Linked DNA regions of Homo sapiens. The protein of the gene in region 3 interacts with the protein of the main gene of each other region in a biochemical or structural test. Each region holds a gene or a part of one and is shown on either strand. Other genes may lie near its edges. The genes, in order: MAPK8IP3, MAPK8IP2, MAPK10 and ELK1.

The links.
Region 1: the proteins of MAPK10 (region 3) and MAPK8IP3 form a complex in vitro, tested with the Homo sapiens proteins (3 studies listed by BioGRID, with this or other methods).
Region 2: the proteins of MAPK10 (region 3) and MAPK8IP2 form a complex in vitro, tested with the Homo sapiens proteins (one study listed by BioGRID).
Region 4: of the proteins of MAPK10 (region 3) and ELK1, one has a biochemical effect on the other in vitro, tested with the Homo sapiens proteins (one study listed by BioGRID).

The regions. Positions count from the first base shown.
Region 1 is NC_000016.10:1,709,176-1,716,197, reverse strand, and holds part of MAPK8IP3 (C-Jun-amino-terminal kinase-interacting protein 3), read right to left. Parts: intron 2,670-7,022; exon of another isoform or gene 2,411-2,669; intron 2,197-2,410; exon of another isoform or gene 2,007-2,196; intron 1-2,006.
Region 2 is NC_000022.11:50,603,775-50,610,796, forward strand, and holds part of MAPK8IP2 (C-Jun-amino-terminal kinase-interacting protein 2), read left to right. Parts: intron 1-63; coding exon of another isoform or gene 64-66; coding exon 67-1,290; intron 1,291-1,593; coding exon 1,594-1,669; intron 1,670-1,787; coding exon 1,788-1,960; intron 1,961-2,050; coding exon 2,051-2,160; intron 2,161-2,883; coding exon 2,884-2,991; intron 2,992-3,146; coding exon 3,147-3,217; intron 3,218-6,437; coding exon 6,438-6,536; intron 6,537-6,932; coding exon 6,933-7,005; 3' UTR 7,006-7,022. UniProt on the Homo sapiens protein: The JNK-interacting protein (JIP) group of scaffold proteins selectively mediates JNK signaling by aggregating specific components of the MAPK cascade to form a functional JNK signaling module.
Region 3 is NC_000004.12:86,350,049-86,357,070, reverse strand, and holds part of MAPK10 (mitogen-activated protein kinase 10), read left to right. Parts: intron 1-2,426; 5' UTR 2,427-2,541; intron 2,542-7,022. UniProt on the Homo sapiens protein: Serine/threonine-protein kinase involved in various processes such as neuronal proliferation, differentiation, migration and programmed cell death.
Region 4 is NC_000023.11:47,647,558-47,655,472, reverse strand, and holds the start of ELK1 (ETS domain-containing protein Elk-1), read left to right. Parts: upstream 1-4,909; 5' UTR 4,910-5,050; intron 5,051-5,446; 5' UTR 5,447-5,552; intron 5,553-7,915. Other genes in the region: protein UXT, read left to right, coding at 3,329-3,392, 3,578-3,631. UniProt on the Homo sapiens protein: Transcription factor that binds to purine-rich DNA sequences. Forms a ternary complex with SRF and the ETS and SRF motifs of the serum response element (SRE) on the promoter region of immediate early genes such as FOS and IER2.

The DNA.
Region 1 (7,022 bases), on a different chromosome or scaffold from region 3:
TGACTGACTTTTAATGTCCAATATAAAATCAAGATGACAGTATTCTGGACTCAGAATGTCAGAGCAATGGCCAGGAAAGTTCTTTCACAGGGCGATCAACAGGCTTTTGGTAACTTTCACAACCCATGGACACTTTCCTGCTGAGTAAAGTAATACATTAAATCCAAACCTCGGCCGGTGCAGTGGCTCCCGCCTGAAATCCCAGCACTTTGGGAGGCTGAGGTGGGCAGATCACGTGAGGTCAGGAGTTCAAGACCAGCCTAGCGAACATGGTGAAACCCCATCTCTACTAAAAATACAAAAAATCAGCTGGGTGTGGTGGTGGGCGCCTGTGATCCCAGGTACTCAGGAGGCTGAGGCAGAATCGCTTGAACCCGGGAGGCAGAGCTTGCAGTGAGTAGAGATCACGCCATTGCACTCCAGCCTAGGCGACAGAGTGAGACTCCATCTCAAAAAAAAAAAAAATCCAAACCTCTCCTCTCATACGTTTGTTAGGCCAGGCTCACCAGCGAGAAACAATTCAGCTCTGGCTGGTTGGTTAGAAACGAATCTTGACACGAATCAAAGATCTCGTTCTTGTGCAATACCGATCAATTTATTTCCTTCCCTGGGAATGAGGGTGTAGTATGAATTTCCAAAGGAAAAACGCTCATTTTTGGTCTTTTATCTTAAGCAGGCAGACAGGTGCCGGGCACGTGCCTGGCAGATGCCCTTCATGGCTAGTTCCCAGGTACGGGCAGGGACCTCGCATGGCTGTGGTTACCCTGGGCTGGCAGGGGGCAGTCAGAGCTCTTTCCATTTCCCACAATTGCCTGGCCACCTAGGTCTAAAATGCAGAGAGAGGACGTGCAGGGGGTGGCTCTGGAGTTACAAAGCTGCCCCTGAAGCCTGCTGGACGGGACACGGGTCGAGGGAAGGACATTTCTCCATTCAGGTATTACGTGTGGGGCTGAGAGAGCTGGCCACTAGCTCGGGACTCCAAAAACCAGGTTGAAAAGCAAGGCTTCCTCACGTTCTGTGAAAGGGATGGCTGGGTTCAGTGTCCACGTAAAACAAATCCCAACTGGTTGAATACGAACTGATTTCAAGAATGGGTAAGACAGATGGGAAATAGATATATATATATTTCCCATCTGTCTTACTAGTACATATACATTTGTATTGGGAAATATATATATAAATTTATATGGTTGGTACCAGCGGAAGAAAAATGAAGATAAAACCAAAACCTCAAGTTAAGTGTCCCATCCTATGAAACATCTCCCTGGGAAAAATTATTCTCAAGTAAACTTTTATTCTCTGGTGCATTCTTAGGAGTTTACATTGGCTTCTGAAACTTCCTAATCAGCCCCAACCTCCGACTCCCTCTGGTTCCACTGAACGAGAGGCCTGCTAACCGTGCCTCAGTTCACTCTTCTCAGTAGCCAAAGGGTCCCTGCTCTCAAAACATGAATGCTCTAACCCGAGGCAGGGACATAGAGACACACGTGTGCAAGGGCCCACTGGGACTGTGCGTATATCTGGGAATTCATTTCCTGGGGAGAAGGAAAGGTGATGGGCAGGCTGGCTGAGGAAAGGTTAGGGAACAGGAGCCCCAAACTCCCCAGAGGCCTGGGGAGGAAGGGGCCCCCCGAAACTTTAACAAAAGGCAAGTTTTGAATCTGGTTGTTGATAACAAGAATTGAAATGTCCTAGACCCTGTGTGAGAAACGCACCACACGGAGGAGAGGTCTTGAGGAAAGGCCCTGTCGCGTTTCACGTGGCACGCCCTGGATCTCTTGCCGTAACAGTGGCTCAAAAGAAAATGCACCAGAGTAATGATGCTGTGGGCTCTAAGGGTCTCCGCAAAGACGCACCCCCCTCATAAGCGGATTCTAGTCTCTGGGTTTCACTGCCAGCCTGCCCCAGAGCAGTGCTTGGCCCAACACCCTGCCAACGGGGTGAGCGGGCTTACAAACCGCTCATGCGTGAAGGTTACGTAAAAACAAGCCGCCCAGCTCCCCTGCAGGCAGGCGGATGGACAAACGGCACTGCTGGGACCCTGCTTGGCCATGGGGGAAGGACACACACAGCCTGGGTGAGTCCCCGAATCACTGTACCGAGTGGAAGATGTCAGAGGAAACCACGTACGCACTGCAGGAGGCCATTATGCAAAGCTCTAGAAGATGCAAATTAACCTACAGTGACTGAAGGCAGGTCAGTGGTTACCTGGGGACAGGTGGGGCAAGGAGGGGTCGGAGGGGGATTACATAGGACACAGGGAACTCTGGGGTCCGGGCGTCTACGCTGCTTGGACTGCAGGGATGGCTTCTGGTGTTTATACGTATTTCAAAACTCATCAAATTGTACTCTTTAAGTATGTACAGTTCAGTGTATGTCAATGATACTGCAATAAAATTGTTACCCACAGAAAGAAAACAAAAAGCAGCCCAAGGCGAAAAAGTCGATCCTGTGCCCTGAGCACAGGCAGTCCTGAGGTGCGAGCGGTTTCCCACCAGGCTCTTCTTGGCCTTTCGAGAACTTCAGCCCCTCTCTGCTGTTTCCTGTTGCTGGCATCCACTTTCCCATCTCACAATATTTTCTCCTGTCTGGTCTCCTGTATCTGAAACCCACTGCTACGGGATCTCCCCTCTTTCTGGAAAATGTTCATTAAACAGGAAACAAACCCACCCTTTAAGCATCTTCCTTTCTTGCATGAAGCTGAGTAACTCACCATCTGCCCTTGCTTCCAGGCAGCTCAGCTAGACTGCCCACAGCCACACTGTCCAGTATGGAAGCCCTGGCCACATGTTTACATTAATTAAAATAAAACACAGCCGGGCATGGTGGCACGAGCCTGTAGTCCCAGCTATTCGGGAGGCTGAGATGGGAGGATTGCTTCGGTCCAGAAGTTTGAGACCAGCCTGGGCAACGTGGCGAGACCTCATCTCCGAAACAAGTAAATACAACTAAAAATCCAGTTCCTCAGTTCCATGAGTCATGCCTAAAATGCTCAACGGCCCTATGTGGCCAGCAGCTACTGAAGTGGACAGCACCAAATACAACATTTCCATCATCCCAGAACGTTCTGTCAGAAAGGCTGCTCCAAAGAGACAGTCCTTGACCTTCCGGAACTGCACAGTTTGGTGAGATGTGTGCAGAGACAGAGGAAAGCCGGCTTCCCTTTATCCACACACACAGATGGCCAGCATCTCCGGGTGTGCCGAGAAAAGGAAACAACAGGCTCAGGCTGAATGAACCAAAGGGTGCCGGCCCCTTGTTGGCAGGGAGCAGCTTAACTTGCGGAAGCCGGGAGAGAGGCCTGGTGGGGGCCCAGCTCCCCAGGCAGGGGCGGCAGAGTGGGTGATGGGGGCTTCTCTGCAGGTGCACTGCGGAGGCAGACACCAGCGAATCCGGCAGAGACGGGAACTAGCCAGATAAACCCCGAGGGAGGGGTGGGGGCAGGTGGTCTAGGAGGCAGGAACTGCAGGTCTGCAGAATGGGGGGCAGCCAGAAGACCAGAGGCAGATGAGGCTGGTGAGAGGTGGGCCCAGTGGGGGGCCACCTGGGGAAGACAGCCTCACTCTGTCCACCCAGTGTCCTGGCCCACCTTGTCACTCAGATCCCCTCATGTTATCACCACCTGAGATGTCCAGTCTGCCCCAGGAGAGCAATCAGCTAATCCCCCTGCCTGGAATTCACCCTAGCACTCAGAGACCAGATATGCTTTGTGAGGGTTCTCTGGGCTGGCAAAGTGGCGGCGGTGGGAGTGGCCGGGAGACCCTGGGATGGTGGTGACTGGAAGCAGAAGGCAGCAAAGGAGATGAAAAGTGGGGACATTAAAGAACTCCTGAGGCTGGCCGGGCGCGATGGCTCATGCCTGTAATCCCAGCACTTTGGGAGGCCGAGATGGGTGGATCACGAGGTCAGCAGATCGAGACCATCCTGGCTAACACGGTGAAACCCCATCTCTACTAAAAATACAAAAAATTAGCCGGGCGTGTTGGCGGGCACCTGTAGTCTCAGCTACTCGGGAGGCTGAGGCAGAAGAATGGCATAAACCTGGGAGGTGGAGCTTGCAGTGAGCCGAGATTGCGCCACTGTACTCCAGCATGGGTGACAGAGCGAGACTCCATCTCAAAAAAGAAAAAAAAAAAAAAAAAAAAAGAACTCCTGAGGCCAAAAGAACACCAGGACCTAGTGGCGGCTAGATACTTGGGGTGACAAGGGGAGCTCGGGACCTCAGTTTTCTTTTTTTTTCTTTTTTTTTTTTTTTGAGACGGAGTCTCCCTCAATTGCCCAGGCTGGAGTGCAGTAGCGTTGCAATCTCGGCTCACTGCAAGCTCTACCTCCTGTGTTCAAGCGATTCTCCTGCTTCAGCCTTCCAAGTAGCTGGGAGTACAGGTGTGCATCACCATGCCCAGCTAATTTTTGTATTTTTAGTAGAGACGGGGTTTCACCATATTGGCCAGGCTGGTCTCGAACTCCTTACCTCATGATCCACCCGCCTCGGCCTTTCAAAGTGTTGGGATTACGGGCGTGAGCCACTGCGCCCAGCGTTGGGACCCCAACTTTCAACAGGGCAAAGGAAAACAAGTCCGGAGAGCCGGCACCCCATGCAGCTCCTGGGCAAGCTTCTGTAGTGATTTTCATGCACTAACAGCTCATCCTCCAGCCCTGGTAATAAATGGGAACCTGGGAAAGGGGCCCATCCAAAAATCTTGTGCCCCTCACCTGATGCCCATCTGGCACAGATTAAGGATCTAGGAGGCTCTGCATGCCATGGGTCTTCCTGCTGAGGCCTGAGGACATGCTCCATATCTGGTCCCCAGGGCCCATGAGCCAGACTGAGGCACAGCTGCAAAGTGACTGAACTGTGTTGTCGCAATGGTCAAGGTCAATAAGAGCAGAGAACGAGGGGCCACCGCAGAACACAGGACACAACAAGGACACAGGGACCCCTGAGCCCCTTACACAGCCAGAGAAAGCAGCGTGGGAAGACGCCTGCACTTGGGAAGCTGGGTGAGGAGTGTTAATTCTGCAACCTTTCTGTACATATTTCAAAATGGTTTTTAAAAACGTAAAAATGAAACAGATATTTCATTTAGAAATCTTAATTTTGGAAGAACTGACTTCTCTCAGCTCTCGGCCCTGTCTGACTGCTGCCAGCGTGGCCCGGGGGCTCCCGCAGCGGAGCGGCAGAGGGGCAGGCTGCGCCCAGCGGCCTCCGGGCCACTTCGGCCTCTGTCCCGTGTTCTCTCTGGCTGGCAGGTACCTCCTTCTCCATGGTTCCTACATGTATTTGCTCCACTTTTTAGGGAGACTGCTGTACTCCTGGTGAGTGGTACAGCTACACCAGGCCAGCTTTCAGAGGCACCTAGGAAAGGCAGCTCTGGCAGCCCCATCTTGATAGCTTCATTTAAAAAACATTTTTTAAAAAACTGTTCTTAATATCATAACATGGCAGGAAAAGAAATCGCATACTCTGGCCAAGCAGTGGTGGATTTACTATTTGTCATATGAAAAACAAAAATAAAAATTTCTGATTCAGCATCTTAATTCATTGATGGAAAAGACTTCCTGCAGATCGTCTGGCGCAGAGGAGAAAAAAAGAAGGAAAAATGGCAGACTGATCATCTCTGTAGAGCGGGATTATGGTGTTTGTTTTCTCCAGCTGAATCCTACCCAAATAGTCTATGAAATGGATGACATTTATTTATTTATTTTTATCTATTTATTTATTTTGAGACAGAGTCTCACTCTTGTTGCCCAGGCTGGAGTGCAGTGGTATGATCTTGGTTCACCACAACATCTGCCTCCTGGGTTCAAGTGATTCTCCTGCCTCAGCCTCCCGAGTGCTGGGACTACAGGGGCCTGCCGCCACACCTGGCTAATTTTTTTTTCTTTTTTTTTTCTTTAGTAGAGACAGGGTTTCGCCAGGTTCGCCAGGCTGGTCTCAAACTCCTGACCTGAGATGAGGAGGTCAGGAGTTCAATGTCAAATGTTGGGAGGCTGAGGTGGGAGGATTGCTTGAGTCCAGGAGTTTGAGACCAGCCTGGGCAACATAGCGTGACCTCATCTCTCGCCTGCCTCAGCCTCCCAAAGTGCTGGGATTACACATGTGAGAGTCGCTGCGCCTGGCCGGTAACTTTTATTTAACTCGGAAAAAATAAGTTTTGGATAAAACTGTCTTCCCTTGCATCCTTTCCTTACATAGCATCAAATGCCGAATGATCAGCAAACATCACCATCTGGGCTTGTTGAGAGAACACCCACTCCAGCTGCCTGCCATGAGCCTGGGGGGTGTTACCAGCAGCAGTTTCTTTAGGGTTAAGAAGATTTTAAGGCAAATAATGACCACTAATATTCACATGTCATCTCTCACACCTTATTTTTCCTCTTGTAAGCTAAGCAGTTGATCACTATGGGAGAAGGGCTCTTTGCTGCCCGGGTAAGCCCGGCAAACGTGGTGGCTCTGCCCGGCCCTCCTCTGGAGCTGCACCGGACGGTGCGTGTGGAGGCAGCATCTGCTCCTTGCCAGCCCCCACCCCGTTCAGCTGCTGTTTCCCACCTTCTTCTTTTCCACTGGGAAATAACTTGAGGGTTTTAAAAAACTTTGTATCAGAGCCTGCACAACCAGAAACTGCACTGTCTGGTAGGCGGCTAGCAATGTCCGGTGCCTGCCGTCCACGGCGGCCCTGAGAACCCGTCAAGGGTTCTGCCCTGACTCTGCTACATCTGCCTGCCCACAATTCTCCAGGCAACCAACAGCCAGTGATGGTGCTTGGATCTTGAGATGAAACTGACTTGCAAAGTCCGCGGCCACTGCAGCCCAGCGAGGGGAAGAGGATGGACCCAGGGTGTGTGGCTCCTGAGGGCCGGGCTGACACTCAGGCTGGGGTCTGCAGACTCCACGGCTTGGGTCAGTCTCTCGGGAGACCCCACCCTCTCTAGCTCCTGTCACTCTCATACACTCAGCTGCCTGTTATCAGAGCACATTGGGAGTCACTGTGGTAATGACCGGCAAGAAGATGGGAACAGGG
Region 2 (7,022 bases), on a different chromosome or scaffold from region 3:
ATGGACTGGCTGCTGGAAGAGGCCTGGGTGGTGCAGAGAGGGTGACCCCACCTCCCTGCCCAGCAGAGCTCCCGGGCCCCCTCCCTGCCACGGACACCGGGCCCGGCGGGGCGCAGTCGCCAGTGCGCCCGGGTTGCGACTGCGAAGGGAACCGGCCTGCGGAACCCCCTGCGCCAGGGGGGACTTCGCCCTCCTCAGATCCCGGCATCGAGGCTGACCTGAGAAGCCGCTCGAGCGGCGGCCGCGGGGGACGTCGCAGCAGCCAGGAGCTGTCCTCGCCCGGCTCCGACTCGGAGGACGCGGGCGGCGCGCGCCTGGGGCGCATGATCTCGTCCATCTCGGAGACGGAGCTGGAGCTGAGCAGCGATGGCGGAAGCAGCAGCAGCGGCCGCTCCTCGCACCTCACCAACTCCATCGAGGAGGCCTCGTCGCCCGCCTCGGAGCCGGAGCCCCCGCGCGAACCCCCGCGCCGCCCCGCCTTCCTGCCCGTGGGCCCCGACGACACCAACAGCGAGTACGAGTCGGGGTCGGAGTCGGAGCCGGACCTCAGCGAGGACGCGGACTCGCCCTGGCTGCTCAGCAACCTGGTGAGCCGCATGATCTCCGAGGGCTCCTCGCCCATCCGCTGCCCCGGCCAGTGCCTGTCTCCTGCGCCGCGCCCGCCCGGGGAGCCCGTGTCGCCGGCCGGCGGGGCCGCCCAGGACTCCCAGGACCCCGAGGCGGCCGCGGGGCCCGGCGGCGTGGAGCTGGTGGACATGGAGACGCTGTGCGCGCCGCCGCCGCCCGCGCCCGCCGCGCCTCGACCCGGCCCCGCGCAGCCCGGGCCCTGCCTATTCCTCAGCAACCCCACGCGTGACACCATCACGCCGCTGTGGGCCGCGCCCGGCCGCGCCGCCCGCCCGGGACGAGCCTGCTCCGCCGCCTGCTCCGAGGAGGAGGACGAAGAGGACGACGAGGAAGAGGAGGATGCCGAGGACAGTGCGGGGTCCCCCGGGGGCAGGGGCACGGGCCCCTCGGCGCCGCGGGACGCGTCGCTGGTGTACGACGCGGTCAAGTACACGCTGGTGGTGGATGAGCACACGCAGCTGGAGCTGGTGAGCCTGCGGCGCTGTGCTGGGCTGGGCCACGACAGCGAAGAGGACAGCGGCGGGGAGGCCAGCGAGGAGGAGGCGGGCGCGGCGCTGCTAGGCGGCGGTCAGGTCTCGGGGGACACCTCGCCGGACAGCCCTGACCTCACTTTCTCCAAGAAGTTCCTCAATGTCTTCGTCAACAGCACATCTCGGTCCTCCAGTGAGTGAGAGGTGGGGAAAAGGGGGGTGGCCCAGAGGAAGGTGCAGACTCCCTGGCCCCAGTCCCAGGGTCCCCCACAGTGCCCAGGGCCACCTGAGGGTCTGGCTGTGGTCAGGGCTGGGTGCCCTCTCCCACCCAGGACATGGCATGAGGTGGCCTGCTCTGCCTCAGCTCCTTCCCGCTCGTAGGACACCTACACCGGACTGTGGAGGGGACTTGGCCTCTGCCCAAGGCCAGGCCTCTAAGCACTACTCTGACTCTGTCTCCCTGTCTCCCCCGCCTCTGTCCTGCCGGGTCTCCCAGGCACCGAGTCCTTTGGCCTTTTCTCCTGTCTGGTCAACGGCGAGGAGCGAGAGCAGACTCACCGGGCTGTGTTCAGGTACGGCCTCCCTCCTTGCTGGCGGTGGCCCCAGCCTCAGTCCCTGCCATCACGGAACGCCAGTGGACACGACCGTCAATCCCGCCCCCCTCCCCAGTGACCTCTCCCCCAACGGCAGGTTCATCCCGCGGCATCCAGACGAGCTGGAGCTGGATGTGGATGACCCTGTGTTGGTGGAGGCCGAGGAGGACGACTTCTGGTTCCGTGGCTTCAACATGCGCACGGGGGAGCGCGGTGTGTTTCCTGCCTTCTACGCCCATGCGGTGCCCGGCCCTGCCAAGGACCTGCTGGGTGAGGTCCCAACCCCGAGGGGAGGCTTTTCACCCCAGATCCTCCCCTGTGCCCCTGCCTGACCTGGGCCCTCTGTGCCCCGCTCCCCAGGGAGTAAGCGGAGCCCCTGCTGGGTGGAGCGCTTTGACGTGCAGTTCCTGGGCTCCGTGGAGGTGCCCTGCCACCAGGGCAACGGCATCCTGTGTGCAGCCATGCAGAAGGTCAGTGTGGAGGCCGGGCAAGTGCAGGCTGAGGGTCCGCTTGGCGGCCACACCAGCACTGCAGGCTGGCACAGGGCTTGAGGCTCCAAGGTCTGAGGTCTGATTTCCTCCAGGGAGGGTCTGGGGGATGCTGCAGGGGGAGCTCGGGGTGGGTACCCCAGGCCCTGGTTCAGAGGCCTGAGCAGGTGAGTCTAGGGCAGAGCACAGCAGCTGTCCCTCATCACCTCTGGGTCTCTGGGCCACAGATCTTCCAGGTGGCCCCGACTGCCATCAGCCCTTCCTCTTCCCATCTGGAATCAAGACCAGCCCTCACAGCCCCTTCCCTGGGAGCCCTCTACTCATCCACTCACTCAGTGGACGTTTAGTGAGCACCTGCCCAGGCACCAGTACTGAGGCTGAGGCTGGGGGGCAGTAGGGAGCAGGGCAGAGCAGCCCAGGGCGGGTGAGGTCTCTGTTCCTGGCTCCTGAGCCAAGCGCAGCAGCCTGCCTGGAGGAGCAGAAGGAAGATGAAGCAAGCTGACTGCAGAGAGGCGATTGCTCCTCCTGAGCCTGAGGAGTGGCCAAGGCCACACCCCTTATGTCTTCCAGAATTGCATCTCAGGGTCCTCAGCATGTGTGTCCTCAAACATAAGCTAAAAGGAGCAGAGGCGTAGTCCCACCAAGGGGAAAGAAAGGCCCTTGTGGGCTCCTCAAGACCCTCTTCTCCCCCAACTTCTTCTGTAGATTGCCACTGCCCGGAAACTGACCGTCCACCTGCGCCCTCCTGCCTCCTGTGACCTCGAGATCTCTCTTCGGGGGGTCAAGCTGAGTCTGAGCGGAGGAGGGCCCGAGGTGGGAGTGTGGGGGACTGGGGACCGGGGACTGGGGGATAGGGTTAGGCCACGGAGTCCGACGGGGCCAGGCTGGCAGGGGTGTCCAGTAGGTGGGAGGCAGGGGTGGCGCCAGGCCTCCTTTGACACAGGGACTTCTGCCCACCTCTGCTCTAGTTCCAGCGCTGCAGCCATTTCTTCCAGATGAAGAACATCTCCTTCTGCGGCTGCCATCCCCGCAACAGCTGGTGAGAGTCTGACCGTCCCCGAGTCCCCCAACCGCCCCCACAAACCCTGAGAGTCCAACCGCCCCCTGAGTCCCCACAGACCCTGAGGGCTGCCCGTGCCCAGCCCTGAGAGCTCCACCTGCACCCACTTAGCTCTGTGAGCTGAGCCTGCAGTGGCGCCTGCTCTGAGCTGGACTCAGGAGGCGTGGGTCAGACAGGCTTGCATCCAGTCTGGGTGGAGAGAGGCACACGGGCGAAGGATGTGAGAAGCCTGTGTGGGTGCAGAGGACGCCTGAGTGGGCCTGGGGCTCAGGATGGCCAGCCTGGAAACACAGCAGGTGACAGCGGTGGGGAAGTGGATCTTCCTGGTGGGGTCTAGCTGAGCCAAGGGTGTGGGATGCACTGGTCGGGGGCTATATAGGCTCTGGGGCCCGCGTGTAAGGGGAGCAGCTAGAAATGCCGGGGAAGACCTGGACCCTTTTGATTATGCCAAGGAGCTGTACTTAATCTTGCTGGTAATGAGGCCATAGAAGGCTCCTAATGGAAGGAGGTGACACAGGGGACCTGGGGGCTGCTGAGGTTATACAGGTGCTATGTCCTGAGACCAAGTGTGCAGATGCAAGAGGCACTGAAGAGGCAGTACAGGCAGGACCTAGGTTGACCGGCTGTAGAGGGTGACCTGGAAGAGACCAGGGTGACGTCTCCCTGGGGGATGGTTGTACTGCAGCCCACACACCGAGAGGGGATGCGGGATCAATCACAAACGGTGAGACTGAAGTGGCCGTTGGTCCCATGGGTCTGGAGTTTAGGAGGGAGACCTGGAGGGAAGATACCAGGTCAGAGCAGGTAGATCACTGAGACGAGAGGGGAATGGCCAGGCAGGGTGAGGGGAGGAGGGGAGGAGGAGGTGCTGGCATAGGAGCAGCAGGCCAAGGGGGGCTGCCAGCTTCCCTCCAGGCACAGGCCCCTGCCCTCTGTGTCCCAGCACCCTAGAGGAAGGAGATCTGGGAGGAACCAGAGAGGCAGAGCCAGCCAGAGGCTGGAAAGGACTTGCGGGGAGTTGGAGGAAGCAGGCTCACAGACAGGCAAGACACAGCAGGGCACGGTGCTGCCAGGACTGAGGCGTGGGACAGACGTCAGTGCATCTTGGGGGCCTTGTGGACTCTCCCTGTGGTCGAGAGTGAGGGTGCTGCCTGCTGGAAGGTGCGGAGCCCTTTTGTGTTGTCCCCGCCGAGTGCAGAGATGGTCTGATGGGATCCATGCGGAAACGCTGCTCAGTGGGGTGGAGAGGTGGGACAGCGGGCAGCGATGCAGACCAGACTGCGGGGCCAGCTCTGGGGTGGAGAGGTGGGACAGCGGGCAGGGGCGCAGACCAGACAGCGGGGCCAGCTCTGGGGTGGAAAGGTGGGACAGTGGGCAGGGGCGCAGACCAGACAGTGGGGCCAGCTCTGGGGTCACCAGGACAGCGAACGGGGCGCAGACCAGACAGCAGGGACAGCTCTGGGGTGGAGAGGTGGGACAGCGGGCAGGGGCGCAGACCAGACAGCGGGGCCAGCTCTGGGGTGGAGAGGTGGGACAGTGGGCAGGGGCGCAGACCAGACAGTGGGGCCAGCTCTGGGGTCACCGGGACAGCGAACGGGGCGCAGACCAGACAGCAGGGACAGCTCTGGGGTGGAGAGGTGGGACAGCGGGCAGGGGCGCAGACCAGACAGCAGGGACAGCTCTGGGGTGGAGAGGTGGGACAGTGGGCACGGGCGCAGACCAGACAGTGGGGCCAGCTCTGGGGTCACCGGGACAGCGGACGGGGCGCAGACCAGACGGTGGGGCCAGCTCTGGGGTCACTGGGACAGCGGACGGGGCGCAGACCAGACAGTGGGGACAGCTCTGGGGTCACTGGGACAGCGGACGCTGCCAGGAGAGGAAGAATGACCCAAATTTCTCATCAGAAGGAAACTGGGTGAAGCTCAGGTCTCAGGCTGGACAGGGCCCCAGCTAGAATTTCGTGAGAGGAAGGTGGTCAGTCGAGTTTGGGGTTTGGAGTCAAGATGTGGCAGGGGTGTGGGAGGAGGTGGAGGAGCTGCTGCCCTGGCCCAGACCTTCCTAATATTTGTCACCCCAGACCCCCCGTCCCCGGTCCCTTGCCACGAGGAGGCACGGACGAAACCGTGTGAGGTGAACGATGAACTCGTTTCTTCATGGCGGTGGTGGTAGGTCAGGAGAGCGTGGGGTGTGCTGTGTTGGGATCTGGCATTAGGATGTCTGGTGTTGGGATCACAGACTGTAGCCTTTTCTCCCAGGGCTGCCCATCCTGCCTGTGTGTCCTGGGCAAGCTCCTGAACCTCTGTGCCTAGCTCTCCATCAGGGCCCTACCTCAGAGGGCTGTTGTGAGGCTTCTGTGAGTTAATGGAAAGGGCAGAGGATGGTGCCTGAGTAATGCAGGAAGCCAGATCTGTGGGTCGGCGCTTATTACCATCATGACTTGAACGCGGCATTTGAGGCGGGCCCTGTGCTCTGTCTGTGGACAGCGTGCACACACTGTCCTGGCAAGCAGACCATCATGTGGCTTCCCATTTGGTGGAATCGCAAAGCCCCGAAGCCATGGGGGAATGGACGGGTCGGCCAGTTTCAGGGGTGGGGGTGGGGCAGCGTCCTGCTGCAGAACTCTGCCTGCCTCTCCCTCTGGACGACGATTTTTGATTTTTGCTAATGTCTGGGTGGAGGAGCTGGGCAGTGACTCCATGAGCGAGGCCCCGCAAGGAGCTGCTTTCCAGTGGGAGCGAGGGGTAGACCGGAAGAGGGTTTTACAGACCAGGGGTAACGTCCAGCCCCACCTCGGAGCTGGGCAAGGGGCTGTCAGTCTGCTAGGCCCGCAGGAGGAGGCCTGAGTTGGCAGGAGATATGGTCTCCAGTAGCCAGGCAGAGGCCTTGCTCTGTGGTCCTGGGGCAGGCCCTGAATAGGGCCACAGAGGGTAGCAGCACCGGCTCAGAGAAGGGAGAGTGGACGCCCCTGGTCATCATGGAATTAACTCAGAGCGTGAACTCTTGGTAGGTGCCCAGCCCTGTGCTTGGGCTGAAACCAAAAAAAGACAACTTCAGATCTTGAAATTGTGCGACCCCCACACTCCTGTCCCTTACCCTCTCCCCAAGCCCTTTGTTCCTGCCTCTTCTCTCTACATCATTTGTGGGGTGGCCAAGGCTGGGCCAGGGCTCTGACGTGCCCTCCACACTGACTTGCCCGCAGCTATTTCGGCTTCATCACCAAACACCCCCTGCTGAGCCGCTTCGCCTGCCACGTCTTTGTCTCCCAGGAGTCCATGAGGCCGGTGGCGCAGAGTGTGGGGTGAGTGGGGCCCCAGGGTGTGGGTGCAGAATGGGTGCAGGGTTACGGAGGTGGGGAGCGGAGGTGAGCAGGTGGGGGCAGGAGCCTGGCAGGGGAGGTCTGGGGAAGGAGAACCAGATGTGCTGTGTAGAGAGGGCAGTGGTGGGTGACAGTTTGGGGTGCTGGGCATGGGGTGGGAACAGGCACAGACACATGGCCCAGGCACTCTGGCAGGGGTAGAATTGCTGGGCCAGGAGAGCTGAGGGTCACACTTGGGGGTGACATGGCCATGCCTGGGTGGGGGGTTATGGATGGCTGCAGAGGGAGGAAGGAGGGAGAGCTCAGAGGCTCTGTGGAAGGCAGTTTGGGGGTTGAGGACCGGCCCTGAGTGGCTGGTGGAGGACCGTCTTTCCCCAGCCGCGCCTTCCTGGAGTACTACCAAGAGCACCTGGCGTACGCCTGCCCCACGGAGGACATCTACCTGGAGTAGCCTGCCCACCGCTCTGT
Region 3 (7,022 bases):
TTCTATTTCCTCTTACAGTCTCTTTTAAGCTTTTGGTTGGACATTGCAACAATCATGCAGAAAGAGGCACGGAAGTGTCCAGTAGTGACAAGAATGGAGTACAATGCTCTATTTGCTGCAGGACTGCTGAGTGCCTTCCTCCTACCACACATGCATCTATTATTGCACCTTCTTCTGAGGACCAAGGACTTGTGGAAAAAGTTGGGCCTATAGACTAGTAGGGGAGATGCTTACTGGTAAAGAAGAACAGAATCCATTTGCTTCTTTGGCATATTGGATATATTTATTGCATTACATAAGCCTGAGATGAGACACTGTACTGCTGATTCAGATAAAAAGATCATGCTGCATATTGATTGTTTAAAAAATGTAACTTAGAATTGGAGCCCATCTTTTCAGAAACCTGTACGTGTTTGCAGAGTGAAGTTGTAAGGTTTTGACTCAAGATTTTTCAGTTTGAGTACATTTTATCCTCATGAACCGATCAAGGCAAAGAAGGGGAAAATACAAAACCTGTGTTTTGCATATCTTTTGTTTTCTGTATTTAATAGGGAGAAGCTGTATTTCTTATTGTGAATCTTGGTAGAAACTCTTAAGAGGAGACATCAGGTAATATTGAAAATCACTAAATATAAACATTTTAGGTTTAAAAAGTAGACCTCACACATATACTATTTCTGGTAAAGGATTTTCTAGTTTATTTGATGTTTTGGATCCATATCAAGCCACTATGGCTTTTCTTACAGTTCTTATCTCTGGTGACTATGAGATGTAAAATCCTTGAGGCTTATGGAAATAATGCTAGTAGGAATGGAAATTGAAGTTTTCAATGGAAAAAGAAATGAATACAGTCTCCTGAGAAGCATCCCTAACCACAGCTGCTCTAAAACCCTGCATGGTGTGCAGGTTTAAGGCAAAGCTTCCCTATAAGGCAATTGGGCATTTGCAGTGACCTGCACAGTAATAAACAGGATTTTCACTACCTTGTGTTTGTACACGTGTGTGTGTGTGTGTGTGTGTGTGTGTGAAGAAAAACAAAAACAAAAACAGCAGTGACTTTAAAGTTCTAGAAATTCATCTTAGTGACTTGTCTTCATAGAAATAAAACTGACTCCTGTTTGTCTGTGTTAACCTGCCTGGGTGCCCTATGTGCTTTCTGAAAATGGATTGCTTAAAGCAATTGTCCTCTTCTTATACATTGGAAATAGGATCTGAAAGCATTGATAGTGAAGGAAAGCTCTTAGGTTAGGTCTGTTTATTTGGCAATGTTTATTCAGTGTTTGTAGGCGGAAGCTCCAGCACAGCATTTATATAATATAGTAATTGCCTATTCTTCTATTACCTGTATTCTCTACTAAGGTTTAATCCCCATCAGGGACTGACTTTTTCTGTTTGGCACACAATAGGGACACACCAAATATTCATTGAATGAATATCTCTCATGTACTGAGTTCTCTGCTAAGTGCTATGGTAGAAAAAATTGGGAAACTGTAACACAGTTTCTGCCATTTGGAACCTATACTCATTTGGGAAGATGAGGCTAAATAACAATAAAGATGGTATAAAATCAAGGGCCCATATTAGTGTTTTGATAATGAGTGCAATAGAAATTCAGAGGAGAAAGGAATTTACCTCCTCTGAAGTGATGGTAGGTGACAATGGGGCTACACTGGGGTGTTGGGGTGAGGTGGTGGGATAGTGAGAGGGTGGTAGTCCTAGGAGTAATTGTGAGCACCTGGGCAGGAAAGAAACTCTTACTTGGGGTAAAGAGGAGGCCTATTTTGGGTATGATGACCATATTTTCCAAACTAGAAATAAAAACTTATGGTTTGACATTGGGTAGAATGTTGCAGACTGCCACATATTCTGAAGAATCTTGTCTAATATAATGTTGGGAAGTAACAGGCTATAATGGTGAAAAAGTAGGTTAGTAACTAGAAGAACATAAATACAGGTCTCTTCAGATGAGCTCCAGCTTAGGTTTACTTTCTTTTGCATACTTCAGAGGTTTTCAAAATTCTCCTCCTTTATTGGTACCTATGTAACCATTGTTCCAATGAAATCTTGTATGAAAAGCAGAATATGTAAATCTATGTAATAGTGGAGCTGTCCCAGTTGAGGATGAGTGGGGTGCCTTGTATTAGAAAACCAAATTCATATCACAAGACTAATTATATTAACTGAAATAAGAATTACTAATTTAGTTTATGCTCAGATATTAAAATAGTTGTTCTGGTATTATAACATCAAAGTTCTTGTGCTTGCAATAAATGATGAATAGAGATAATTACCTTGAGATATTTTCTTTCCTCTGCCTACACTCACCCACCCAGTAACCAACTGTCTTTGATGTCAGCTTTTTGGTTTTCTAAATACAAATTTAAATCTTAAAATCAAACTCATCTGTTTTTTGGCTTTGCTTTCAGGCTAGTGTGAGAAACACCAACAGCAGGCCCATCTCAGATCTTCACTATGGCAACTTATGCAAGAAACTGTTGAATTAGACCCGTTTCCTATAGATGAGAAACCATACAAGCTGTGGTGAGTTGCCAATTTAAAAATATTCCTTAGCATGAAAACTAGGATCTATATAGCCAATTTAAATATTGCATATGGTTTTGTACATGGAGCTGGAGAAATACTGCTCCAAATAATTTCGACTACAGAAGTGAAAATCAATAGAACAGAAGTTTAATAGTTGGTGTGGTACTACTAATACCACATACAGTAGTGAAAAGTCTTGAGGTGCATGGGTGCAGCATATAACACCATGATACTACCACCATGGATGATACCTGCAATTAACATTTTCATGTGGCAGAGTAACAGTTGGGTACCATTATTTTTAAGTGACTTTTATTATTTGCAACATTGTACTATATTTTACAGATTCATCTCCTTTAGTAGAAAAATTGGTTCTGAGCTAAATTATGGTTTTCTTTCAGGAACACACACACACACACACACAATTTAGCTCTTCTGAAATAAGAGAAGAGAAATCACAGTTTTATAAAACTCAATTCATGGGCATTTTAGCCTACAAATCCTTTTGCTTAACAAAGCAATGTTAAAAATAGATACAGTTGCTCTGCCTAGTTGGAATGACTTTAAAACTTATTACTTTATAAAAATATCAGCACACACAGGTAGAATGTCTTTTTAAATCAAATACTTGATGCTTCATAGTCACCAAAGTCAATAATCAATAGATTCCAGCAGAGATGAACGAGTTATAATCTGTCAAATAACATCTTTGAGAACTAGAGTATGACTGTGGTGCTTATAAGACTCCAAAAGAAGCTATTTTGAGCTAGTGATCAATATCTTTCTTTCATTTGCCTAGTGGCTTATATAACTGTAGATAGGTAGGCTGCCCTGTGAATTAATGCACAGCCTATGACTGCGGAAGACTGATGAAATTAATCCTAGAGTTATTTCATATAGTGAATTTATAAAACAATTCATAAAAAACAATCCATCTACCATTATATTGAGAAAGCAGATCTAATAGCATCACTATACTGTGCTTAATTAACATGTATTCAATGAGCGTTATAAATAATTTTATGCAATTGCCAATAACAAACTATTTTTGACCTAAAATAAGGGCAATTTTATATGGTTGAAACTAATATATTATGTGTTACTCCCAGTGATGTAGAAAGCATACCATGTTCTCTCCATTCTGAATATTAATTCATTAATCAAACTCTTATTGAGAATCTGTGATGTAGGTAGAATGTTTAGCTTTTGGGGCAGATAAAAGACAGTCCTTGCTTTAAAGGAGCCCTCAGTCTAAAGAGTGGGGTACTTACAATAAAATGTGCTTATTAATGGAGGTAGTTGTGTTCTAAAGAGTGTGGCACTTACAAAGTGCTATTACATGGGTAGGTCTAGAGTGCCAAAGGAAGTGCATCAGAGGAGACTCTACCACGGATGTGGTAGAGATTAGTCAAGGAAGACTTCCCAGAGGAAGGGATCTTTTGGTGGACTATTAAGCACAGTGAAAGGATAGCCAGAGGAAGGGAGGATGCAGTGCACAGTGGGAACATTTTTTAACAGACCCAGAAGCCTGAGAGAGCATGATTGTGTGGGAATACTAGGTATCATTTACTATGCTGAAGCAGAAATGGTAGTGGCAGAGATAAAGTTGAAGAGGGATACAAGACATGTGCCATGAAGGATCTCTTAGACAAAATTAAGGAGTTTGGATTTTGTTTCAAAGTGAAGAGCTTTTGAAAGATTTTAAATAGGAGATTGACATAATCAGTTTATTTTTTAATTGTGAAATATACCATACGCATAGAAGAGTGTATAAAACAAATACTGGTTAAAGAATAATTATAAATCAAACATCATGTAAACAAATCAAACAACATAAAACAAATCAAGTAAATCAAACATGATGTAATAGACTCCCAGCAAACCCCTATGTGTCCCTTTCAGATCACATACTTTTCCTTCCCCACCATAGGTAACCGCTAGCTACTATCCCACCTTTTGTCATGCACATTACCTTGCTTTTCTTTGTAGGTTTTCCATCTATCTGTGCATCTCTAGGCTATGAATCTTAGTTCTGCCTATGCTTCAGCTCCATGTATTTGGAGTTACAGCATGTATACTCTCAATCACCTGATTATTCTGCTAACATTGTGAGATTCTTTCATGTTCATGCATGTAGTTTATTCATGTAAATTGTTGTATAGTATTCTATTGTATCAATATGCCAATATTTACTTATCTAGTCTATTGTTGTTGAACATTTGGATTAAATCTATTTTACTTAATGCTAGTATAAATATAAATATAATATCATTTTTATGTTTATATATATTAGTTCTCATAGTTTCTGATATTTACCGTTTTCTAGGATAAATAGCAAGGGAAGGAACTGCTGAGTTTTGGGGTATGTGCGCCTTTAATTTTACTAAATAATTCCAAAATATTTTCCCCAATCAGTTGCATCAATTTACATTCCCAGCAGCAGTATATGAGAAACTCTGCATTCTCACCAACACTTGATTTACAAGTTCTTAAATTTTGCTAATCAGGTAGATACATAATTGTACTCATAAAAGTATTAATTTGCATTTTGCTGATTACTAATGAAGAAGAGCATCTTTCCATTTTTTGTTTTTTGGTAATTTGATTTTCGTCTTTTGTGAAGTACCTGCTCAAATCTTTTTGAGATGTGTCTTTCAAAATGATAACTAACACTTATTGAGTTCTCACTGTGTAATAGGCACTATAGTAAGTACTTTACAAATAGTTCATCTTCCTAGTATCCCTGTAATTTAGAGGTAAGGAAACCAAGGTTTAGAGAGGTTAAATCAGTTGCTGACAATCACATAGTTAAGGAACAGTGGACTTAGCATTCAAGCCCAAGTCTTTCTGACTCCAGAATTCTTCAGTTTCTCGGTGTTTGGAAGGGGATTTGGTTGGAACCAGGGAGAACATCTAAGGTGCTATTGCAGGAATCCAGTTAAAAAAATAAGTGCATAAACCAAAGAATTGCTAGTAGGGCATATGTAACAAACAACTGGACTTGGTAATGAATGTGGTGGGCAAACAAGAGGAAGGATTTTTAAAGTCTCAAGTTTTAATACCTGTCGGCTAGGTAGATTCAATATTTGTCATAAAATGTGTGTGTGTGTGTGTGTGTGTGTGTGTGTGTTTGTGTATACACACTGTATATATATATACACACACACATTGTATGACTAATGTTGTAATATATTGTCATCCTTTGTACATATATTGTACAATACATTGTCATATATATATTGCGTGTGTGTGTGTGTATATATATATATATAAAATACAGATATTGTGGTAGGTACTAATAATTCATTTTATAAAGTCCAGGTATTGTAGGTACTAAGAGTACATTTTGTGAATCTACAATTCAATGAGATGAATTTAGTTCACAGGCTCATAAATTTTAGGGTTTAAAGCAATGACACTGTTCATTTGGGTCAAATCTTCACTTTTTTTTAAAGATATGGAAGCAACTGCTAAGGAGGGTAAGTGGCTTGTCCAAGATCACATGTTTCTAAGTGTCAGGTTAAGAATAGATACGATGCCTGCAAAAAAATGCAAAGAAATAACAACCACCTGATTTTTAAATTAACGAGTGATGACACAATCAACCTATTCTATTTCCTAACCATTTCTCAGACAAGTCCTTTTTCATCTAAATCTGTTGTTACTGCCATAATTTAGGTCCTCATCATCATCTTTGGCAGGTTTATTTAAGTAGCCTAGCATACTATCTTCTTGTCCATTATTCTACCAGTGAAGCCACCAGACTTGTTATTTGATTTGCAGTTGTTACCGTATAATTGCCCTACTTAAAGAATTTTCAATATACTCTGTCATCCATGTAATAACTTCCCTTTTCCTTAAGACATGCCATACTTCTGGCCAGGTGGGTGGCTCAAGCCTTTGTAATCCCAGCACTTTGGGAGGTCAAGGCTGGTGGATCAGCTGAGGTCAGGAGTTTGAGACCAGCCTGGCCAACATGGTGAAACCCTGTCTCTACTAAAAATACAAAAATTGGCCAGACGTGGTGGCTCACGCCTGTAATCCCAGCACTTTGGGAGGCCGAGGTGGGCGGATCACGAGGTCAGGAGATCAAGACCATCCTGGCTAACACGGTGAAACCCCATCTCTACTAAAAATAGAAAAAATTAGCTGGGCATGGTGGCGGGTTCCTGTAGTCCCAGCTACTTGAGAGGCTGAGGCAGGAGAATCACTTGAACCTGGGAGGCAGAGGTTGCAGTGAGCCGCGATCGTGCCACTGCACTCCAGCCTGGGCGACAGAGTGAGACTCCGTCTCAAAAAAAAAAAAAATTATCTGGACATGGTGGTGGGCACCTGTAATCCTAGCTACTCAGGAGGCTGAGGCAGGAGAATCGCTTGAACCTGGGAGGCAGAGGTTGCATTGAATCGAGATTGCACCACTGTACTCCAACCTGGGCGACAGAGCAAGACTGTCTCGCACACACACAAAACAAAAAATG
Region 4 (7,915 bases), on a different chromosome or scaffold from region 3:
TATCTTTTCAAACCTTTCCAGCCATGGGAAGGACTAGCAGGTGCTAGTGGACCCAAAAGAACCTCAGACCTGCTGAGATTTCTGATTCTTGGTGTTCAGACCAATTAGCAAATAGTTTAATTAAACGGCCTGCTTTCATGGTCAACACAATTCTGAACTGGTGGTCATTTAGACCAAGTCCACTTTGTTTTTGAGACGGAATTTTGCTCTTGTCGCCCAGGCTGGAGTGCAGTGGTGCGATCTTGGCTCACTGCAACCTCTGCCTCCTGGGCTTAAGGGATTCTCCTGCCTCAGCCTCCCAAGTAGCTGGGACTACAGGCACCCACCACCACTCCCGACTAATTTTTGTATTTTTAGTAGAGACAGGGTTTTGCCATGTTGGCCAGGCTGGTCTCAAACTCCGACCTCAGATGATCTGCCCACCTCAGCCTCCCTAAGTGCTGGGATTGCAGGTGTGAGCTACCGCGCCCAGCTAAAGTCTAGTTTGTATAAGAAGGCTTTCCTTGTTATGTCACAGGATTCCTGAGCCTATCAAATAGATTTTAATGTTTTGAGACTCCACGTACTTCCCCAAAATGAAGTATTTAAATTGTCAGTGCCTGCCCCCTTGCCTGGTCTTTTTGATGTACTGACCTGGTCTGTTAGTGTGATGAAAAATATGGTTGAGTCTTACTGCTTTATTGTAATTAGTAGGACTGTCTAGAAGTTTAATTTTTCTAAGAGATGAAGATTTGAGTCTATGTAGCTGGCTGTCCTTTAAAAATATTTGGTTACTTGGGATATACTTTGAACTAACTTTCTGGTCATTTTATGTGATCAAAAGTGTCAGTTCTTCCTGTTCTTAGTATATTTCTTTGTTTGGGAAGTGGAAGGGATGAAATCTCTATATTCTTTCCTGATGACACAGAAAGGAGTACACATCCACATCTCATGAATAGACATGTAATTATAGAAGAAACAGCCTAACGGCCGGGCGCGGTGGCTCACACCTGTAATCCCAGCACTTTGGGAGGCCGAGGTGGGTGGATCACGAGGTCAGGAGTTCAAGACCAGCCTGTCCAAGATAGTGAAACCCCGTCTCTACTAAAAATACAAAAAATTAGCCGGGAACGGTGGCAGGCGCCTGTAATCCCAGCTACTTAGGAGGCTGAGGCAGGAGAATCGCTTGAACTCGGAGGGTGGAGGTTGCAGTGAGCCGAGATCACGCCACTGCACTCCAGCCTGGGCGACACAGTGAGACTCCATCTCAAAAAAAAAAAAAAAAGCATAACCATATGACTATTCACACTGCCTTACATACTAAATCAGTAGTAATTTGCTTCTCACATAGCAAATAAAAATAAATCAGCAGTAATAAACATATCCCTTTTGTGTTACAGCTAGCATTTGGTGAACTCTGTATTTTTCTCCCTTTTAAAGTGTTGAACTCATAGGTTTTCATAAGGTAAGCTTACACCATTAACTAATTTTGTTCTCTTTTTTGATGTTAAAATTGTCCCTTAGGAGCTGATCAGGTTCATTCTTCTGTTCTTTAAGCATTACCCCCAGAATATTCTTGAAAGTATTCTTGCTCTCTGGCAACAACACCCATACTTCATTTATTTCCTGTCCCTAAACATACACTCAGCCAACCTCAGGTTCCTTTTAATGGAGTAGTCACTTATTCATTCAACATACGTTGGGTGCCTCCTCTGTGCCACACACTGTTCTGGTCCCTGGGGATAGAGCAGGAAACAAAAAAAAACAAAATCTGCCCTCATACAGCTGACATTCTAGTCAGGGGAGACAAACAATAAACAAATGAATGATGTAGTATGTCAGATGTTGACAGTGCTATGGAGAAAGCATATCATGGAGATCAGAAGCATTACCTGCAATGGAACAGTCATGATTTTAAGAAGAATGGCTGACTGGATGTGAAGTGTGAGAGAGAGGAGCCCAGGTTTTTGGCTGAGCAACTGGAGGGATGGAGTTGCCATTATCTGAGATGGAGAAGTTAGGGGAGGAGTAGATTTGGAGGGGAAGGTCAGGAATTTAGTCTGGAACCTGTTAAGTATGAGGCACTTATTAAACACTGAAGTGGATTTTTAGAAGATGTCATTAAAACTAGTCAAGTTCAGGAGAGAGTTCTGGGCTAGAAATAAAAATGTGGGAGATATTGGTATATACATGGGTTCATACTACTTTTTTTTCCAATTTAACATCCTATCTTATTGCTCTCTGCTTTTCCAACAGTATTTAGTTTCATTTACCCCTCAAACTGACTCCTACATTGACAGCACAATAAAATCCACATTCCTTATTATATTAAGACCCTGTGTGATCTAACCTCTTCCTATCTCTTGGACCTTGTCTTAGGCCACTTTCCCTCCCCACTCAATTTCTAACACTCTGACCTCACTGCTTCTCAAACAGCTCTTTGTTGCCTCTTGTCCTTTTTGTGGAAAAGGCCTTCCTACTGCTTAACCATTAGGCATTCTTCGATTCCTTCTCATTCTTCATTCTTGAGAAAGGCCTTCCTTGACCCTTTATATCAATTAGGATTCTTTTGGGCGAGATCTGATCCAAACTGGCTTAGAGAAAAGGAGTCAACTGACTGGTTCATGTAATTCAACCTCCTTCCTCTGCTGCAACCTTCCCTTGGCTCCCATCTCACTTAAGGTCAAAGCCAGGGTCCTTACCATGGCCTTGTAGGCTTCACACAGTTTGTCTCCCTCATTACCTCTCTGACCTCACCTCTTACATTCCCCCTTCACTTATTCTTCTCCAGCCAGAGTGGCCTCTTTGCTGCACCTCAAACATGCCAGGCACACTCCCACCTCAGTGCCTTTGTGTTTGCTGCCCCTTGTGTGTGGAACACATCCTCCATATAGCCACACTACTCAAAATTCACTGTCTTTAAGTCTTTACTCAAATGCTTCTCCGTGAAGCCATCCCTGAGCCCTCTTTAAAATTGCAGCCCCCCACTCCTGTACTCCTTATTGTCTCTCATTTTTAATTTTTGTTATTGTAGTTAGAACCATCTGACACATAGCTTTTATTCCATTGGTTTTTTGTTATGTCTTTCTTTACAAGAATTTGAAGTCCATCAGGCCGGGAGTTTTGTTTGTTGTGTTTGCTGCTATCTCCCAGTGCCTAAAATTGCCTGGCATACAGTAGGCATTTAATAATCTTTGAATCAGTGAAAACCAGATGGTGGCTTGGCATTTCCACATAGGAATGAGCCAGGTGGAAATCATCCAGGATATAAGTAGATCTTGAAGTGATAAGGAAGGGTCATCATAATCATGTGGGGCCCATTTTGCCCTTTCTTGTTTCTTTTCTCTAGGCTCAGCAACAGCCTCACCAAGGACTCCATGAATATCAAAGCCCATATCCACATGTTGCTAGAGGTGAGAGCAGCTCACCCCACTACCAGACTCTGTGTTTAGGGTGGTGACCTGAAGAAGGAAGAGAGCGAAAGAAGGGAAGGACCATCTTTCCCTCTAAACTGGAGTCAAGGGAGGGAGGTCAGAGCAAGCCTGGGGGCGTAACCCAGACCCAGTCTTTGTTCAATCTCTTCTGTCCTCTTTTTCAGGGGCTTAGAGAACTACAAGGCCTGCAGAATTTCCCAGAGAAGCCTCACCATTGACTTCTTCCCCCCATCCTCAGACATTAAAGAGCCTGAATGCCTTTGAGTCACATGGCCCTTCTTTTTCCCCATAAACCCTGCTAGTTGCCACGGGGGCCTGTTCCTAGGGCACAAAGTTACTGAGAGACCCAGAGATCCAGTCTCTCTGTGGAACCTCCAAAATGCCCCAGCAGTCCTGCCTCCAGCCTGTTGCCTGGCAGTATTTGCCAGTTGACCTTATGCACTGCCCTCTCTTCTGTCATCTTGGCAACCTGGGCCCCCCACCTCACCCTTTCTTCCATTCCTTTTCCTAGACGCCACCCTTTGAATTGCCATAGAGAATGGGCCAATTCATGGTGGAGGTTTGTTCATTCCCACAACAATCAAAGGGCCCTAAGGTTTACGCTTTCACACACCCAATCATTCCCCAGGTACCCCAAATTACACCCAAACCCTAACTCAGCCCTACCTTGTCTTAGCCCCTGCTTGTAAGTGTTCCAGCTTCCAATGGGCACAGACCTGGATCCCGCTCTCCCTAGTCGGGCCCCTATTCTAGGTTGAGTCCAGCCACCGCCAATCAATGCAGAGCCAGGTTCCTCCCCTTTTTAACTCTGGCCGCAGTTCAACCCTGCCCTCTGAAAGCATTTCGTTTCTGCCACTCAATGCTCTTTCGTGTGCCTGACAGCCATCCTGCCCTCCTACCTCCGCTGTGTTCTAAATTCGTCTTTACCCAGCTCTATGGTCTTGTCTAACCGTAGAGCTGCCCTGCCCGCCTACGCGGAGCCCAGTCCGACCCACTCCCGCCGGCTGCTACGCCCATTTCTATACAAGCCCTGCTTCCGCTGAGCAGCATGGCGTGCGACACCGCCCCCTTGGTGTTTTGGCAGGGGTCTAGAAGTCCCTCGTCCGCCAATCAGAGAAAAACAGGGCCACCCACCCCCGTCCTTGGGGGCTGTCTTCCATCAATCCCATGTAAGCCAATCAGTGTGAGGCAGACCCCCGCCCCCCCGACACAGGCCCCGAGCCTTTTCAGTTGCTCACAGTCCGTCAGTCCTTGAGCCAATCGGCGTGGAGCACCGTGAAGGCCGAACGCGCCTCCTCGGGACTCCAGGGGCCGTGAGCGTTCCATCATTTCCCCTTACGCCAATCACGGCACAGCTCTGTAGGGAAGGGCCCGTCCCCCAACCCCTCGAGGCCTTGCGGCCGATTAATAGCGCTTTGGCCAATCAGCGAGCGGCGGGACATTGGGCTCCTCCTCCTCGGGCCCACGTGAGCTGTAGGGAAACGCAGGGGCGGCTTCTAGGTGCTGCCGCCGCCACCGCCACCACCACCTCCACCGCCGCCTCGGAACCCAGGCCTGGGGGGCGGTGGGGCCGCGTATGGAGCCCCCGCCCCCCGGAGCTGCCAACATTGCCAACGCCACCGCCACGCTACACACAGGTGAGCTCTGGGCCTGGAGGGTGGAGGGCCCAGTCCGTGACCCCACGTATCCTTCCCGCCCCCGCGCAGAGGATGTGGCTTGGCCGGTGGCCTGCTGGTGTTCGACTCCCCGCCGCCACCACCACGGCTGGTGGACCTGCGTGTGGCATTGCTCAAGCCCTTCGTCCCTTATAGTGGATCTGACCGTGGCCTAACCTCCCCCTCCCGTTGTATAATGGATCGGTCTGCGTGCTTATGTTTTTCCCCACGCCAACTTAGGGTGGACTCGTCCATAGGCTTTCCCCCTACCCCTACCCCCACCCGCCCCCCACCCACCCCCACTTATAGGGAGCTAGCCTGTGACAGTGTTCAGCCCCCTTAATAGTAGGTGTATCTGAGTGTTTGGATTTCTCCTAGCCTCAACTTTCAGGAGACCCGTCCGTGGCCTTATTTATTCCACCCTTCCTGTACATCGTAGCGAATCAATCCGTGGCGCCGCACTCCTCCGCATCCCTCTTTAACAGTGAGTCTACCTGAGTTTGTATTCCTGCCTCCTCCAGTCCCCCAATGCATCAGTCCATGGCTTTTTTCAAAACCACCCCCCCCCCCCACCACCACCACCACCATTTTATAGTGGATCAGTCTTCATGTTTGGATTCACGTCCCTTTAGCTATCAGTCCATTGCCCTGTCTCCTCTTTTTCGTAGACTGTCGCTCTAGCGCTTGGGGTTCTCTCCTTTTTAATAGTGGGTTAGTTTAGTGCTTTACATCTCCCTATTTTCAGTAGCTCAGTCCATAGCCTTTTCCCTCTCTGCTTTGAATCAGTCTGTGTGATGGCTTTTCTCTCCTCTCACTGTGGTGCAGGAGTCTGTAAGGTTTTCTGCTCCCCTTCCCCTCAGACGATGAGCCTCATCACCCCTCCCTTTGCAGTGGATCTGTTCATTGGCCTTCCTCCCCCACACCCCTGTATGCTTGCACAGTCCCCCGCATACCCTCCCGTGAGTCCAGTGCTTTGTAATTGGGGGAAGATCGGCCGTGTACTTTCAATTTCCTTCTCTTTTTTTTTCCCTTCCCAGAAGAGAACGTGCTGATCCTCTTTTCCTTGTGATGGAGCACTGTACGGCCTTCCCTGTCCTCCACCTCTTAATAGTGGGTCAGCCTGGTCACACTCGTAACCACAAAGACGTTCTGCCTCACTACAATAAGTGAATACATTAGCGCCAGTGATGATAGTAATGCCAATAGGAGCTAGCGTTTATTGAGCACCTGCCGTATATCAGGCAGAGTGTTTCATATGAATGAGTTCCTTTAATCCTCACCACAACCCCATGAGATAGGTAGTGAGGGAATTGGGCCATAGGGAGGTTAAATTCCTTACTCAAAGGTGGCCCAGGAAGTACTCAGGACACAGGATAATTTTTGAGGCTCCCCTCTTAGATCTCATCCCACCCCACGTGAGGCCTCAGTCCTTAAAAACCAAATTAGTTCTCACCTCCAAGCTTTTGTTCTTGCTGTTCCCTCTGCCTGCAGAGCAGTCTTCATTCCTCACCTTCTCTCAGCACCCACCCACCCCCCAATCCCAGCAGCTGTGTGACCTTAGATGAGTGATTTAACCACTTCCTCTCTGTGCCTTTTTCTTCATTTGTGAAATGGGGGATCAGAACTAGAATCCCTTCCAGTGTAAATAAATATTAACTGTGAATTAATGGTAAAACAAGTAACCTTTCTAGCATTACCGCCTATACCTTCCCACCCCCTTACTGTGCTCCAACCACACTGGTTCCACCACACAGCTCCTCAAACATAGCAGGCATGGGCCAGCCTCAGGGCCTTTGCATTGGCTGTTCTTTGTGCCTTGAACACCACCCCCAGATCTCTGCATGGTTCCTTTCAGCACTCTGTTCAAATACCAACCCCCAAAGGATGTTTACCACACTGTGGTGTGTGGAATGCAGTATAAAAAGATACATGTATGAAAGATGTTTCTAAGAATGCCAGTTTATATATGAGTAAGGGTTTTCCTCCTTTTCAAAAGGATGTGTTCACAAGACTGAGGTACGTAATATGCTCTGTAAAGGCATAGGTATAAAAGCTGTTTCTAAGAGTGCTAGTTGTATATGTGAATAAGGACTGTGTTGTTGCATTGAAAGAATGTGTTCACAAAACTGTGGTGTGTAGCTGGGCACAGGGGTGTGCACTTATAGTCCCAGCTACTCGGGAGGCTGAGGTGGGAGGATAGCTTGAGCCCAGGAGTTCCAGGCCAGCCTGGGCAATATAGCGAGATCCCTTTTTCTGAAAAAAAAAAACCCAAAAAACAACCACTGTGGTGTGTGTAATACACTCTCTTAAAGGCACAGGCGTAAAAGATGTTTCTAAGAGTGATTTGATTTTGTTGTACCTGGGTAGTGTTATTTCATTAAAGGTTGATTGTCACACCATGGTACTTAGAATATACTATACAAAGGCACATGTATAAAAAAGAAGTTCCTAACAATGCTACTTGTAAAAACAAAAAAAGTCAACCCCTCCCTGACCATCTGAAGCTGCACACCCAGCAGGGCTCAAGCCAGGTCCCTGATTTGTCCCGTTGCCCTTTATCACTGTCTGACACACTGTGTGGGTTACTTGTTTGTTGTCTGTCTCTCCTCATTAGAATGTGAGTCCCATGAGGACTCAGTTTTTGTCTGCTCATTCACCGCTATGTCTCCAGCAACTGAAAATGTACCAGGTAAACAGCAGATGCTCAATAAGAATTTATCCCATGAATAAATGGGAAAAAGATAATTTGAGACACCAGTGTAGGGGTCACATGAGGAAGAAGAAGGGATATGAGAGCTAATTAGTTGGGACTGTTCCTGCAACCAACCTTTACTGAGCCCCTTGTGA